Homo sapiens: one gene and its partner. The protein of the gene in region 1 purifies or fractionates together with the protein of each later gene. This does not show direct contact. Each region holds a gene or a part of one and is shown on either strand. Other genes may lie near its edges.

Region 1 (3,409 bases):
CCTCAGGGAGCCCGGGGTCTCTGAGACGACTGCAAGCAAGCTGTGTGGTGGCTGCCACAGTTTCCAGAGAAATGGAGATTTAAGAGCCACACCTGCCCTGGCACGCTTTTGACTCAGTTTCCCTCTGGGGGGGTCCCCTCTAGGAAAATCCTTCAATAATCAAGTTTTTGTTGACTACCACCCAGGGATTAGTGGGGCCCACAAAACCACGTGTCAACAAGACACATCTACACCACACATCAACAACGAGTGTACCGCGCGTGTCTACACCACCCATCTATCCCATGCATCTACACGGCACATCCATATGCGTCTGTACCTCGTGTCTACACCACATGTCTGTACCACGTGTCTAGACTGCCCATCTACAACATGTGTCTACACCACCATCGGATTAATGCCTGCTGGTGGGTCAGCAGGGCAGGCAGGACACACAGAGGGGGCCACCAGCAGGAGCTGAGGGGCTCCAGGAAGGGAGTGACCCCGGGAGGCGTCCTCTGGGAGAACTCTGGGGGGCCAAGCTGGGCTGGAGCATGATTGTGGATATGACAGGAGAGGTAGAATAAACCTCACATTCTCCAAGGCCACCTCCAACCTCCTTAGGAAAAAAGTGAAGCTGGTTCCCAGGTTGGATCCCCTCCCACTTTCTCCCCAAGCGGAAGACAAAGCGGGGGTCTGAGTGCCGGGCGTGCACTGTTGTGGGTGCCCTTGGCCTGGCCCGGTGCCTCCTTCCTGGTCATGCTCAGGCCTTGACCTTTAATGGCCTGGTCACCTCTGAGCATTGCTCTGTGGTTGTGGCCTGACTGTGTGGCAGCTCATAGACACAGAGAGGTGTCACAGGCTGCAATCCAGGCTACCCATGTGAAACCAGCAGGCCATATCTTCAGGGCTGTTGGGTTCCCAACTCTATGGCTGCTGGACTTTGTTGTGTGCTGGCACTTCAGAGTCTGCAGAGAGGAATGAGGGGTGCTGGCCTCAAGCCAGAGCAGAGATGTATTCCTGGACAAAGGGCCAGCAGCCCAGAGGGCTTTGAATAGGGTCTACCCAGTGGGACAGACAGCCAGGACTAATGGGATGGAGGGAGGAGAAATCCCTGAGAGCTTCCTGGGGGAATCACTATTCAAAAGCACATTCTAAGTGCCTGCTGGGACAGAACTGCTTACAACACCCCTCCGACCTGGTGCTTGGTTTTCCCCCTTAGCAAAGGGAAGTGTTGTCACCCCAGAAGTTGCAGCTCAGGGGCCAGAGAAGCTGGTTTTCTAGGGTGCACGCAGGCTGGGCTGCTTCTCTCCACTCTAAAGCTAAGTCTCTGCCTCAGCCCACAGGCTTGTCCAGCACCGCCCTAGGATGCACTTGTCTCTCTCTCTCTCTCTCACCTCACCCTGTGGGGGATGGGGGACTCAGAGCCCCACCCCCAGGGCCTCTGAGGCTCAGGACAATCGTTGCCTTGGCTAGATTGTTACCTAGGAGACAACCCCCTGGCCCCCTGGAAGAGGCCTCAGCAGGCCCAGGCCACCTGGAGGGAGAGCAGACCTGCGGCTGAGGATGCAGGGCTCCCGGGCACGGTGCTAGCCCTGCCTTGAGACACCCCGAGAGCTGTGGGAAGAGCTGTGGGATCCCCTATTGCATCACAAAGCGGCCCTGGAGGGCTGGTCTTTATTTTGATGAGGCTGAGAAGGGAAGGCTGCGGGCATGTTTAATCCGCACGCTTTAGACTCCCCGGCTGTGATTTTTGACAATGGCTCGGGGTTCTGCAAAGCGGGCCTGTCTGGGGAGTTTGGACCCCGGCACATGGTCAGCTCCATCGTGGGGCACCTGAAATTCCAGGCTCCCTCAGCAGAGGCCAACCAGAAGAAGTACTTTGTGGGGGAGGAGGCCCTGTACAAGCAGGAGGCCCTGCAGCTGCACTCCCCTTTCGAGCGTGGCCTGATCACAGGGTGGGATGACGTGGAGAGACTCTGGAAGCACCTCTTTGAGTGGGAGCTAGGCGTGAAACCCAGCGACCAGCCCCTGCTTGCAACGGAGCCCTCCCTGAACCCCAGGGAGAACCGTGAGAAGATGGCAGAAGTCATGTTCGAGAACTTCGGCGTGCCCGCTTTCTACCTGTCGGACCAGGCGGTGCTGGCTCTCTACGCCTCTGCCTGTGTCACGGGCCTGGTGGTGGACAGCGGGGATGCGGTCACCTGCACTGTCCCCATCTTTGAGGGTTACTCCCTGCCCCACGCAGTCACCAAGCTCCACGTGGCGGGCAGGGACATCACGGAGCTCCTCATGCAGCTGCTCCTGGCCAGCGGCCACACCTTCCCCTGCCAGCTGGACAAGGGTCTCGTGGACGACATCAAAAAGAAGCTGTGCTACGTGGCCTTGGAGCCCGAGAAGGAGCTTTCCCGGAGGCCGGAGGAGGTCCTGAGGGAGTACAAGCTGCCCGACGGGAACATCATCAGCCTCGGGGACCCGCTGCACCAGGCGCCCGAGGCCCTGTTCGTGCCCCAGCAGCTGGGCAGCCAGAGCCCCGGGCTCTCGAATATGGTCTCCAGCAGCATCACCAAGTGTGATACCGACATCCAGAAGATCCTCTTTGGGGAGATTGTGCTGTCGGGGGGCACTACCCTGTTCCACGGGCTGGATGACCGGCTTCTCAAGGAGCTGGAGCAGCTGGCCTCCAAGGACACCCCCATCAAGATCACGGCTCCCCCCGACCGGTGGTTCTCCACCTGGATTGGAGCCTCCATCGTCACCTCTCTGAGTAGCTTCAAGCAGATGTGGGTCACCGCCGCAGACTTCAAGGAGTTTGGGACCTCCGTGGTGCAGAGAAGATGCTTCTGAAGGCCGCTTCTCGTTGGGTACCGTGGGGGGTGAACCCTAGCCCCAGCTTTGGGAGGATGTTCAATAAAGGACCAATGCCGGAACACCTGGCCACCTCGGCTCAGTTCCTTCTTGGGGGCGGCAGAGTCATTTCTGGCCCTGACAGTGAATCTGTGAAGTGTCTTGGTCCACACCCGCTCCCCTTCGCTTCCTCCCAAGAAAGCCTGGGCTGAGGCCAGGCTGTGTCCATCTGCAGTTTGTATGAAAGTAGGGCCCTGGGCCTCAGGTGAATAGGGCGCTGGAGTCCGCATTCTAAACAAGGGTCTTAGGTGGGCTGAGAGAGTCGGCAGGGATGGTGGGGACTAGCGCGTGCACCAGGTTCTGACGGCTCAGCAAGAAACCCCTCCCTGTGTGGGCCCTACCTAGCATGCCAGGGCCGGGGCTCTGCTTGTGTGAGGCCGGGCGGCTGAACAGGGTGGAGCTGCCGCTCTCAGCAGATAGGAACAGACGGGAACAGAAGTCACCGTTTGTTTAGGGCCCTCTAAACTCAGGGGTCCTGCTCCCAAAGGAAGTACAAAGAATCAACACTTCTGCTTAGCAAGTG
Region 2 (3,500 bases), on another chromosome or scaffold:
GAAAACAGCATGTGGCCACAGATTTGATTAGGTGGGTAGATGTAGCAGTGAGAGTCTGTGGAAATTATCTTTGGATTGTTGCTGTTTTGTCTGCAAAATAGGTCAGCTGCTGAGAATAAGTCTGGATGAGGAATGTTGGTGGTCTGAAGAGAGTAAAGTATGAAATCCAGAGGAGTGGGCCAGTGAGTGGACTAGTGCGGTGTGGTCTCTCTGCATCAGGGAGAGTCCATTTGAGGTAGCAATCACAAGTTTAAAGTGAGACACTCAACACAGTCATGTGTTTCTCACAGCAAATTCAGCTGCATAGGTACAGGTACAGATTAGGTGGAGAATTGGATAGGATAGAACCAGGCTGTGGTTGAGATGATTAAGTACAACCAAGTGAGACAACCAAGAGGGACTGAGTATGATTGCCTATGGAATTTAAGAGGAAGAAGACAAAGGTTTCTCACAAAAGCACTATAAAGTAGGTAATATAAGCAGTATTCCTGTTTTACAGATGAAGCCACTAATATAGAGCTTTCTTTTTTAAATCATACTTTAAATTCTGGGATACATGTGCAGAACGTGCAGGTTTGTTACATAGGTATACACGTGCCATGGTGGTTTGCTGCACCCATCAACCCATCATCTACGTTAGGTATTTCTCCTAATGCTATCCCTCCCCTAGCCCTCCATCCCCTGACAGGCCCCTGTGTGTGATGTAACCCTCCCTGTGTCCATGTTTTCTCATTGTTCAACTTCCACTTGTGAGTAAGAACATGCAGTGTTAAGTTTTCTGTTCCTGTGTTAGTTTGCTGAGAATGATGGTTTCCAGCTTCATCCATCTCCATGCAAAGGACATGAACTCATTGTTTTTTATGGCTGCATAGAACCACATTTTAAACCCAGATCTGTTAGCCTAGAAAATTTTTGTTGTTTCTCTTATGAGACATTATATTTTGCCTAATGATGGGTACGATGCTCAGCATCATACCCTTACCACCAACTCTTCTTTTTTTGAAGTGAAATGAAATGTTTAAATCTTTTTTGAAATGAATTTATCAATAGACTGAGTATAACCCCTGACAAGGAAGTATTATAGTTTAAGATGATAGGCAAAACTGGGCAGAGGCTGGCTAGTGTACTTGAAAGAGCACTGGGTGCTCGATTTGTGCTCTGCCATTCATTTGCTTCTCTGTAAGATGAGGGCTCAGACAATATCAGTGGTTCAAATATTCAGCTGAACTGGAAGTTCCAAGGAGTCCCTTCAGGGGCTGTCATAGCCTCCTCTACCAGAGCAGCTATGCTTTTTGCTTTCATCTACGCTTGTGTTTTTATATCTATATAAGATTTTATTCAAATGGATGACCCATGACCCCCTCACTACCTGCAGAAAGAATTTGAAAACCTCTAGACTAAATGATCTCTCTGGTTTCTTCTCACCTGAATGTTCTTTGAGCCTTGCCTACTGTGTGTGTGTGTGTGTGTGTGTGTGTGTGCATGCGTGTGTGTGTGTCTGTACTAAGCACTATGAGGATTACCTAGAAAGCATTTCTCTTTCTCTAAGACTTAAGGCAAATATGTATAAAAGATTAAATTTATGTAACATCAATAACTAAAAAACATACAATGCATTTTAAATCCAACTAAAGTACAGGCTCTTCAAAAGCTATTTTCTGTTTCTTTATATATTTTCAGCCTTAAGCCTGAAGATTTCTCAATTGAGGGTAAGGTGGTACTCACCCCTTAGGGGCATTTTATAAATCTGAAGACATGCTTTTATGTCTGCTAATATTGTCTCTGAGAATGTATGTATTGAAACAAGTATTTTGTTAAATTTTAAATTAGTTTCTTTATGGTACTCTTTTATATTACCAGTAAGAAATCATTTTTTAAAATGGTGTGTTGGTAGATTATGACTATCCTTTGATGTTGATGAAGAGGTATCACAAAATATTTGTCATAAGAAAGAGGTACTGGGTTTGATATGGTTGAGAACTACTGGTCCGTGTTCTATACTGTGGTACCCAGAAGTTTGGAAGTGATGGTAGTATAATCATGTATCAGATTGAGTGGTAGATATTGCTAATGATGTGTGAAATTAGAAAAAGTAAAGATTGTTCTGGACTTGGGTAGCCATGAAATCTTCAGTGGGAGGAGAGGATTGTTAGAGGGGATCTTACATTCAGCATTATGATAAACCCTTGACATGACATACCTTATCTTGAAGAAATGAATGACCAGACTTGTCCGAGAGACTAAGAAGGTACTTTCCAAGTAGGGTAAGTCATAGAATTTAAAGCTGGAAAGGCCCTAAGAATCACCTAGGCCAGACATTTTTAGTTCAGGGTTGTTGCCCTTTGAAGTTCATGGATGGATTTCAAGGAACTTGTGAATCACTTGACATTGTGTGTATCATTTAGCATGTCTTTCTGAGGGGAATTGGGTTCCTCGTTCTCATTCTCAAAAAGGCCCATCATCTCTAAGAGGTTAAGGCCTGCTGATCTAGTGTGGTCCCAGACTGAGGTAGATGGTTTGCTCAAGGTTACACAGCCAGTTAGGGGCAGAGATGAGGATTGACACCCAGTGACTTCCAGTTTCTTTCTCATTTCACTGTACTCAACTAAATTACATGAACAAAGGCACAGGCAGGATTAAGCTACCATTTTATATTAGATGGTATAAAAACAATCAACTAGCCTGGGGTCAATTGAATTAAGTCTGTCAGTCTGTTTCTACAAAAGTTGCAGAAGGATGGGCTTCAGTTTGTCTCTTCAAAGTGAACTAATATTTTGATTTTTCTGGTTGAAATATGCTACAACTCACCGAAGTAGCTTTCTCAGTTGAAGGTAAGCTCCTTAAAAAATGTTCCTATTCTTGGGCCGGGTGTGGTGGCCCCCGCCTGTAATCCCAGCACTTTGGGAGGCCATTGAGGGCAGATAGCTTGAGTCCAGGATTTTGAGAACAGCCTGAGCAACAATGGCAAAACCCCGTCTCTACAAAAAATGGAAAAAAACTAGCCAGGCATGGTGATGCACATCTGTGTTCCCAGCTACTCGGGAGGCTGAGGTGGGAGGATCTTTTGAGTCCGGGAGGCAGAGGTTGCAGTGAGCTGAGATCATGCCACTGCACTCTGGCCCGTGTGACAAAGTGAGACCTTGTCTCAAAAAAAAAAAAAAAAAAAAAAGAAAGAAAAGAAATATTACTATTCTTGAGCCTGTTTCTGCGGTTTCTTTCCAATGGCACTGTTTTTCTAACCTGCAGCAGCCCCCAGCTTTCCACATAATCCAATCAAAATTACTTTGCCTGATTTGTTAGATTTTGTAACTACCGTAGCGTATTTAGTCAAGCGTATTTAGCGTATTTAGTGTATGCTGTGCCCCAGTCAGACTAGTGTCCTTGCTATTGGTACTTCCTATTCTCCCAAAGTCCTTTCATTCCCACCTTCGTATCTTTTTTCATATGGTCCCTGAGCCTGGAATACCTTCCATTCCTCTTTCATTTCTAGATGCCCAACA

What was found.
Region 2: the proteins of ACTRT2 (region 1) and ACSL4 purify together in Homo sapiens (affinity purification with mass spectrometry; one large-scale study listed by BioGRID and IntAct). This does not show direct contact.

Annotation. Positions count from the first base shown.
Region 1 is NC_000001.11:3,019,995-3,023,403, forward strand, and holds ACTRT2 (actin-related protein T2), read left to right. Parts: upstream 1-1,472; 5' UTR 1,473-1,692; coding exon 1,693-2,826; 3' UTR 2,827-2,909; downstream 2,910-3,409.
Region 2 is NC_000023.11:109,684,758-109,688,257, reverse strand, and holds part of ACSL4 (long-chain-fatty-acid--CoA ligase 4), read left to right. Parts: intron 1-2,813; exon of another isoform or gene 2,814-2,831; intron 2,832-3,500. UniProt on the Homo sapiens protein: Catalyzes the conversion of long-chain fatty acids to their active form acyl-CoA for both synthesis of cellular lipids, and degradation via beta-oxidation. Preferentially activates arachidonate and eicosapentaenoate as substrates.